Linked DNA regions of Homo sapiens. The protein of the gene in region 1 interacts with the protein of each later gene in a biochemical or structural test. Each region holds a gene or a part of one and is shown on either strand. Other genes may lie near its edges.

Region 1 (3,500 bases):
AAGTAATGGAAAACTAAAATTACTACAAAAAACTACAGAATAAACATTTTATAGAGAAATATTCAGGCTTTGATCTGTTAATACATATCACTTCCTTCCCTAAGCCTGAGTTTTAAGAAGGTATTAACCTAATTCACCCTGATGTGAACTGGTAAATCTCACTGTCAACTGTTTTAGCAGCAGGATGGAAGGAGCTGTGCTGCTGAGGACAGGAACTGGGAGCCTTTGACTACCAGAAGTGAATAAGTGACATATTCAAGTTTAAGGGAAATTTTTAAATAGAATAAATGACATTCAAGTTTAAGGGAAATTTTTAAATAGAATACTTTTTTACTTATATGGTAATGTAATCCCAGCATTTTGGGAGGCCGAGGCCGGCAGATCACCTGAGGTCAGGAGTTTGAAACCAGCCTGGCCAACATGCTGAAACCCCGTCTCTACTAAAAATACAAAACTTAGCCAGGTATGGTGGCGGGCGCCTGTAGTCCCAGATACTCAGGAGGCTGAGGCAGGAGAATTGCTTGAACCTGGGAGGCGGAGGTTGCAGTGAGCCGAGATCACACCACTGCACTGCAGCCTGAGCAACAAGAGCAAGACTCCATCTCAAAAGAAAAAAAAAAGCAGGAAAAACCTAAAAAGTAGAAAGAAGGGATGAGGGCAAGCCCTACAAAAAGACCACTGTAATCATTTCCTTATTCTTCCTATTCATTGGAGAAAGGAGGGTGGCTAAATATTTTAATCTTAATTGCTTAACAGTGTGTACAGTTGAACCATATTGGTCTTTTTCTATCTTAGGTATATTCTTTCTTGATAATCAATACTTTAAGAAGTACAGAAAGAAACTATCTCAAATTATACTACTTGCATTTCTGTTTTTTTAATTTCTATTTTAAGACTTTCATTGTGAATTTTGAAAGTATATAAAACATGCTTTTTCTATTTTAGAAAGTTTCTGTATCAACTTACAGATATCAGGATCTTTGCTTTTCTTTGTTTTATTACTAAGAGTTATTTCAAATCTATTGATGTCAGGAGGAAGATCACTAAAGGAGCAAGGAGAAAAAGAATTAACAAAATGTTTTGGCATCAAACTACCTTATTTCTTTAGTTCTAGTATCAAATAAACCCCCTATTTCTGCTTTAAAAAAAAAAACAGTGTGCTAGACCTAAAACCAGATTCACAACATATTTTATTATTTGGTATACAGAAGACACGCAGATTACACACTTTTCCTACCATCTTTAACCTCCTAAACTAATAATTCATTCAAATAAGTACTGGAAACCCTAGTAAATGTTTTGTATTTGTGGGTTAGTAAATGTTTTTTGACTTGCTAATTCATGTTAATAACTAAGTGGAAAAACCAAGGGCATAGCACTTCACAAATAAAGGTGAACAAACAACAGAAAAAAAAAAAAAAAATATATATATATATATATGCTATTAGAACACCTGGATATGGTACCTTGTTCTGATGGTTTAGATACAGAGACCAAAAAAACAGAAAGAAATGCAATATGGTAAAAGAAAATGATTAATGTAATGATAAAATAAGACTTACTCAAAGACAAACTCTTCTGACCATACTGGGTTTTGCCCTTCCCTTGCATGAGTTTTTGCTACTTGGACACTATTCAGGTAGATGTTACAATATGGATTAGTAAAATGTTTTACTGGGAGTTTATGGGCTTCTTCAATATGTAAAACAAGGCTGCTGACCTAAAAAAAAAAAAATATATATATATATATTACCCCAGATTTCTAGAATTGCACTACATTTCAAAAGCAATTACTCTAAGATACAAAGCCAAAAATAATGACTTATTTTCCCCTTTTTTTTCAGAAAATGTGAGCTTTGGTTATATATTTGTATATGACATACTTAAAACATTCAGACATTTAAAATAATTCTTCCCACCTAAAAGATAAAAACAATGCAATTTTATTTTACAAGTTATTTCTCCCAGTATATTCCTGGAGAAATAATGAAATACACCTTTTCTACCATAAAACAATGATAAAGAGAAAATGAAGTTAAGAAGAAAATTCTTTATTAATATAAGTAAACAACTGTCACTACTCAAATTAAAATCCCGTATGTTATATAATACTTATCTGGAAGATTCTATTTCTATAAAAGAGTTCCACAGCTAAAAATTTTTAAAACACTGACTTTACCTTCTTATTTTACAGGAAAGGATACAAACCTAAAGAAACTAAGTTATTTGTTAGTTTGGATGCCAAAACTTAGACCATCCACCTTCTAGTATCAGGTTCTCTTTCTCTCTTGCCATATACTACTTGTGTGGCCTTGCACAAATCCGTCCCTCTAAGCCTCATCTTTCTAATATGTAAGTATAAAGTCTACACTACAGGTTGTAATAAGTATTACAAACTAGTTATCCCTCAGTATCTGTGGGGGACTGATTCCAAGACCCTCCACCTCTCTGTCCTGGCAGCTAACGAAGCCCAAGATGCTCAAGTCCCGTATAGAAAATGACATAGTATCTGCATAAAATCTATGCATGCCCCCCTGTATGCCGTAAATCATCTCTAGATTACTTGTAATACCTAATACAATGTGAATGCTATGTACATAGTTGTTATACTGTATCTTTTTATTGTATTTTTTCGACCCATGGTTGGTAGAGTCCACTGATGCAGAACCCATGAATAGAAAGGGCTGACAGTATATGTAAATCACTAAATCACACTGCCCACTGATACATAAAAAGTGCTTGAGAGATGTTAGCTATGATTATATTAAACCTGCAAATGTCATTTTAATGGCTCAAGTTTCACACAAAATACAACTTGCTCTTATTAGCAAAAATCCAATCTGATTTTTGATAGCTTACAAAATGTTACAATGTTATGAAGACATGGCGATTGTGTGTATACTTAAATTTCCCTGGGGAAGAGCCAGACTTTGGGTTACAGGGACTATTTAGTCACCTAAATATCAACCATTATCCACTCCCAGTAGAACAGTATGTTAATCACTCAGCTTATCAGATATTCGCACAAAGAGAACAGGAGACACTTTGGTTAGTAAATAAATATTGTACTAAACTTTCTTTAAACCTTGAGAATGTCAAAATTTGCCTAACTTCTTCCAATTATACAGGGATTACTAAAAAGAAAAAAGCCAAGAAATGGAGGTTATAAAGTTACCCTTGTAAAGGCAAAAAAAAGAGAAAGCCTAGCTTAACTCTCCACAAATCTCAAAGTATAGGGCATGTTACAGTTTCAAATAAGATTAAATATTTCCTAAGAGTTAAGCAGTAGGTTTTAAAAGCTGTTCTTCAAAATGAAAATCCCAAAAAAGTTTATTGGGATTAGTGCTATAAATCTGATGATCTTTTCAATGTTCTACTTTTTTGAAAGAGGCCAAAATAAGTTTTTGAAGGAAAATTAAGTGCCCAACAGAACCGTTTCTGCTGTGTTGGTTTAGTGTTGTTATTTAAAGTGGAAGAATAATCTTTCTTATGTTTTTAAC
Region 2 (2,557 bases), on another chromosome or scaffold:
AGGATGCCGCTGCACCATCTATGGGAGATGACGCTGGCCTGGATGCAGTGGAGACTGTGGGGTTCAAAGTGGTGAGACTTGGGATATGTTTTGGAGTCGAGTGGCCAAAACCCTGTGACTGCTCAGATGTCATAGGGGTGAGGCCAGGCACAGTGGCTCACGCCTGTAATCCCAGCACTTTGGGAGGCCGAGGCAGGCGCATCACCTAAGGTCAGCAGTTCGAGACCAGCCTGGCCAACATGGTGAAACCCCGTCTCTACTAAAAATACAAAAATTAGCCAGGCATGGTGGTGGATGCTTGTAATCCCAGTTACTCAGGAGGCTGAGGCAGGAGAATCGCTTGAACCTGGGAGGCGGAGGTTGCAGTGAGCCGAGATCACGTCACTGCACTCCAGCCTGGGTGACAGAGGGAGACTCCGTCTCAAAAAAAAAAAAAAAAAAAAAAAAAGTCATAGGAGTGAGAGAGAAGGAAGGGCCAAGGAAGCCCCCAGATTTCAGGCTTAAGACATTAGATGGATGGAGGTGCCTTTAACTAAGACAGGAAAGGTGAGGGAAGGTTGGGGGTGAGGATCAAGAACTCAGTTTGAATGGACATGTTGTTGAGATGAGCCCATTGCCAGACTGGGCCCTGGTAGCAGCCCTGAGCTGATGCCCCTTCCCTACCTGGGTAAGGGATCCGGCCGTAGGTGACGATCTCCATCAGCAGGATACCAAAGGACCAGACGTCTGACTTGATGGTGAAGGAGCCAAAGTTGATGGCTTCAGGAGCTGTCCACTTGATGGGGAACTTGGCCCCTGCAGGGTTGAACAGAGCAGAGTCGGGGAAGGCTGGGGAGTAGTGAGGGTTGGCTCTGCTAAGGTGGGGGAACAGGCAAGGGCAAGAGCTGCCAACATCTGCCCCTGCAGACCTGCAATTTCCCTGATACGTGGCCTCCCTGTGGAAGCAAGGGACATCCATCCTGAGGACAGATGGCTAAACAAGGAGGAGTGGGCTTAGGGGCCTGGGGTATGGTGTGGAAGTTCACTCTAGAATCCTCCTCGTTGATTCAGCTGATACCCCAGTTAACTGCAACTCCGAAGAGTGGAATCCCAGAGGTCACAGGTCTTTGGGGACAGAAGGACTTCAGGGGGCCTTGAGTCCAGGTTGCAGCTGATGCCTCAGTCCTCTCATCCTGGGCGATGGGAAAAGGGAGGATTCTGGCTCTCAGCCCATGAGGTTCCCACCAGTCACTATGTGTCTCTCCCTTTACCCGCCCTTCCTCCCACCTAGTCTGACATGGGTTTAGTTAGCCTTTTCATTTTTTTTTTCTTTTAGAGACAGAGTGCCCAGGCTGGAGCGCAGTGGCACAATCATAGTTCACTGAAGCCTCGAACTCCTGACCTCAAGCTATCCTCCTGCCTCAGCCTCTCAAGCCCCTGGGGTTACAGGTGTGCCCCATTATGCCAAGCTAATTAAAAAAATTTTTTTGGCCAGGTATGGTGGCTTGTGCCTGTAATCCCAGCACTTTGGGAGACCAAGGAGGAGGATCACCTGAGGTCAGGAATTCGAGACCAGCCTGGCCAACTCCATCTCTACTAAAAATACAAAATTAGCTGGGCATGGTGGCAGGTGCCTGTAGTTCCAGCTACAGGCTGAGACAGGAGAATCACTTGAACCCAGGGGATGGAGGTTGCAGTGAACCGAGATCACACCACTGCACTCCAGCCTGGATGATAGAGTCAGACTCCGTCTCAAAAATAAAATAAAATAAAATAAAATAAAATATAAAAAAATAGAAAAATTTGTAGAGACAGTGTTTTATTATGTTACCCAGCCTGTTCTCAAAACTCCTGGGCTCAAGTGATCCTCCCATCTTGGCCTCCTAAAGCACTGGGATTATAGGTGTGAGCCACCGCACCTGGCATAGTTATCCTTTTTTAAAAAGTGTTTAGTTTAATTATATCATGGTTGGTGAACATGGTCTATAGAATATATGTTCTTTGGAATTTGTTGAGACCTGCTTTATGACTGAGTACATGGTCAAGTTTTGAAAATGTTCTATGTGTGTGTTTGTGTGTGTGAGAGTGTGTGTGTGTGTATATGTTTTCTCCCTTCCTCCTTTGGATCTACAGACTTTTCTTGATTTCCTGCTTATCTTCTTCTGGTTTAGAAATTATACATTCTACTTTTATTCCTTTAGTCATTACATTTATTTATTTATTTATTTATTTATGTTTTGAGACAGGGTCTCGCTCTGTTTGCCCAGGCTGGAGTGCAGTGGTGTCATCTCAGCTCACTGCAAGTTCCGCCTCCCGGCTTTCACGCCATTCTCCTGCCTCAGTCTCCCAAGTAGCTGGGACTACAGGTGCCCGCCACCACGCCTGGCTAATTTTTTGTATTTTTAGTAGAGATGGGGTTTCACCGTGTTAGCCAGGATGGTCTCGATCTCCTGACCTCGTGATCCTCCCACCTCAGCCTCCCAAAGTGCTGGAATTACAGGCATGAGCCAACGTGCCCGGCCCTATTTATTTACTTTTTTGAGACAAAGTCTTGCTCTGTTACACAGGCTGGAGTGCA
Region 3 (3,500 bases), on another chromosome or scaffold:
AGGGCCTCAATCTGTTCATCTGATTTTCTAGAACACACAAACTTCTGCACTCCAGATCATCAACTTGACCACACGACACTGAAAAATATGATACCGCCTGTCTACAGAAGTACCTGAAGACTCCTGGGAGCTGAACAGTACATTTAAAAAAGATTATTTCCCCTTGAATTACCAAAGCAATTGTTAGAAAAATAAAGAAGAAAGTGACAACTGGATGCAATCCCCCGCCCCGCCCCCGGAGCTGCTGTGCTCTGGTTGCTGAGCCTGTGGTATCAGGGAAAGAGGAGCACAGGCTCGTCTCCTCAGGGTCACGGGGGAAAGACAGCCAGGCTGAGTTCACCAACTCCCCCAATTCCCAGCATACGTTCTCTGGGAGCAGTGCCACAACCAGCTCTTCTCAGTCAGTGGTGCAAGCCGTGGGAGGTGGAGTCTCGGGCAGAGCCTTACCATGCCGGAGCCGCCACAGTAGTGGCAATGCTGCACCTTGGTGCCGGGCTCGTTCCCCTTGCCGTTGCAGCGCTCACACGTGTCCATGATGTTCACGGTGAACTCCTTGTTGACCCCCTTTGCAGCTTGATTGAATGTCAACTCCATGAAGTACTAAAGAAACCAAGGGACAGCCTGTCAACTTTTGTTTGCAACGACCAAAACTGACGCTCGGCTCTAAAGGGAAAGGAGGGTACTGGCCCACATTTTCAGTCACTCTTTCACCACTGTACTTACTTGCACTCTGCCAAGTAAGCATAGGTAGGACTCACTGAACGAATTCTGCCCTACTCTTTGGGATTTTTAAGAGATAATGTATGACTTAAATGAAAACGTACTTTCAACAGACTGAAAATGTTCACAGATAAATACTCGTACATGGCACTTAAAAACAGCCTGAATGATCCACAATCATAATTTAGATCATAAATATATCCCCTCTCTCTTCCACTCTGACAGTGTCTTATAAGGACATAAATGAGAGAGGATCAGCAGTGCCTTCCCACCGGACAGAACTCTCCTGGAATACTGTAGCAGATGAGAGACAACACTCACACCCTCATGGGCTCTGAAAGCCTTAGGTGCTACCTCATTATGCAACTGTTAAGAATACCATCAGAATGGACATACTCATTACTACCTATGCGATTTTTCAAATACTGAAATTATTTTCTACTAAAATGGCTGCCTCCAGATCACTCCATTTAAGCTGCCTTGCCTTTCTGAGAAACAGAAACTGATAAAAAAATTTGTTTGACCCATACTTAGTCTAAAATTTGAATAATTCTTCCAAGTGAGGAACTTACTTCCTGAGGCTGATCAAACACGGTCTGGAAATCTCCAAATGAAGAGGATGAGAACTCGCCAAAGATCTTCCTGAACAGCTCCTCGGGGTCCACAGTGGGGCCTCCCTTCCAGTAGCTATGCTGGGAGCCGCTGGCCCCAGGATCGAAGCCTGCAGAGCCGTAGGCATCGTACTGCTTCCTCTTCACCTCATCACTCAAAACCTACAGTGAAAGGCAGAGCCACTGGGCATCCCAGGTCTACCAAGGCCCAGGAATACAGACAAGAGTTCACAGCAAATAAGGCAGCCATAACATTTATTAAGTGGCCCTGTGTGCAAACACATCCTATGAGGTTGGGGTGGGCCTGTGACTAGCACCTAGAAGAGGGATGAGATGACCAAACTGAATGCTAAGTGTAGGGCGTGAAGTGCTTCCAAAAGTCTCACGAACTCTCCCGCCGTCGCGCATGCTGGGAAAATGTTTGTGTTGATCCTCGCTTGACCTCACAGGCACCCTGGATTCTTCACAGATTCACACTTCACCTCTCTCCTCAGGGGACATTACCTCGTAGAGAATTTATGCTTCCTACCCTTACCTTCATCGAAAGGTTTTCTGCAAGCCAGAACAACCGGAGTAACAGAAGTAACAGCAACGACAATAGCAGTGGTGCAATCCTAGCTCACTGCAGCCTCAACCTCCCAGGTTGAAGCAATCCTCCTGCCTCAGCCTCCACAGTAGCTGGGTCTACAGGTGCACACCACCAGTCCTGGCAAATTGTTTTAAGTTTTTGTAGAGACAGGGTCTTGCTATGTTGCCCAGGCTGCTTTCAAACTCCTGGCCTCAAGCGATCCTCCCACTTCGACCTCCCAAAATACTGGGATTACAGGCATGAGCCACTGGGCCTGGCCCACAAAACTGTTAATAAGGACTAACTACCTCAAAAAGGGGGATTAGGGAGGGACAAGGAAAAATGTAGTATTCACTTTGTATCTTTTTTTTTTTTTTTGAGACGGGAGTCTTGCTCTGTCGCCAGGCTGGAGTGCAGTGGCGCGATCTCGGCTCACTGCAACCTCTGCCTCTCGGGTTCAAGTGATTCTCCTGCCTCAGCCTCCCGAGTAGTTGGGACTAAAGACATGCACCACCACGCCCAGCTAATTTTTTTGTATTTTTAGTAGAGACAGGGTTTCACCACGTTTGCCAGGATGGTCTCGATCTCTTGACCTCGTGATCCGTCTGCCTCAGCCTCCCAAAGTGCTGGGATTACAAGCGTGAGCCACCGTGCCTGGCCCTCACTTTGTATCTTTTTTTTATGTGTTTGTCTTACTTTTTTTTTCTTTAATTAAAAAGACACTGCCCTAGGCTGAGTATGGTGGCTCACACCTGTAATCCCAGGACTTTGGGAGGCCAAGGCAGGTGGACTGCTTGAGTTCATGAGTTCAAGACCAGCCTGGGCAACATGGTGAAACCCCATCACAAGAAAAATACAAAAAAATTAACCAAGAATGGTGGTGCACGCCTATAGTTCCAGCTACTTGGGAGGCTGAGGTGGGAGGATTGCTTGAGCACGGAGGTTGAGGTTGAGGCTGCAGTGAACCGTGATTGCACCATTGCACTCCAGCCTGGGCAACAAAGTGAGACACTATCTCAAAAAAATAGGCACTATCCTTAAGGCCAAACAGAAAAGAGTACGCTTCCTCCAAAGGAAAAGACACTTCCACCTAGAATGGAGGGGGACTAAGAAAGCAGGTGGAGGACAGCTTGGTGCCTAGGGTAACTTTTAGGGCACCCAGTTAAGATGCAAAGGAGGAAGGCTGGCAGAGGAGGAGTCAGGTGGGAGTTCATGACTTCCTGGTGGGTTTTATCTCCTGGTTCCAGCCCTTCCCAAGGAATTGCTGCTCTTAGGTTCTGAGGCTCGGTCCGTTTAATAACATCCCCCTTGAAGACAGAAGTCAGCAACACGGTGGATTAGGACTCTCCAAAACTCATGCCCCTGGCAGAAACATCAGATCAACTAACCATGTGGAAAAACACATTCACAAGAATAACACCCCCCCGCCCCATTAAAAATTGAATCTTCTGGGTGCAGTGGGGAACCTGTAGTCCCAGCTACTCAGGAAGTTGAGGTTGAGGCAGGAAAACTGCTTGAGCCCAAGAGTTTGAGACTGCAGTGAGCTGTGATCTCGCCACTACACTCCAGCCTAGGTAACAGAGTGAGACCTCAACTCTTTT

What was found. The genes of interacting proteins can lie anywhere in the genome.
Region 2: the proteins of RASA1 (region 1) and HCK form a complex in vitro, tested with the Homo sapiens proteins (one study listed by BioGRID).
Region 3: the proteins of RASA1 (region 1) and DNAJA3 form a complex in vitro, tested with the Homo sapiens proteins (one study listed by BioGRID).

Annotation. Positions count from the first base shown.
Region 1 is NC_000005.10:87,372,383-87,375,882, reverse strand, and holds part of RASA1 (ras GTPase-activating protein 1), read right to left. Parts: intron 1,721-3,500; coding exon 1,563-1,720; intron 1,044-1,562; coding exon 967-1,043; intron 1-966. UniProt on the Homo sapiens protein: Inhibitory regulator of the Ras-cyclic AMP pathway. Stimulates the GTPase of normal but not oncogenic Ras p21; this stimulation may be further increased in the presence of NCK1.
Region 2 is NC_000020.11:32,097,242-32,099,798, reverse strand, and holds part of HCK (tyrosine-protein kinase HCK), read right to left. Parts: intron 796-2,557; coding exon 664-795; intron 1-663. UniProt on the Homo sapiens protein: Non-receptor tyrosine-protein kinase found in hematopoietic cells that transmits signals from cell surface receptors and plays an important role in the regulation of innate immune responses, including neutrophil, monocyte, macrophage and mast cell functions, phagocytosis, cell survival and proliferation, cell adhesion and migration.
Region 3 is NC_000016.10:4,439,368-4,442,867, reverse strand, and holds part of DNAJA3 (dnaJ homolog subfamily A member 3, mitochondrial), read right to left. Parts: intron 1,494-3,500; coding exon 1,293-1,493; intron 601-1,292; coding exon 448-600; intron 1-447. UniProt on the Homo sapiens protein: Modulates apoptotic signal transduction or effector structures within the mitochondrial matrix. Affect cytochrome C release from the mitochondria and caspase 3 activation, but not caspase 8 activation.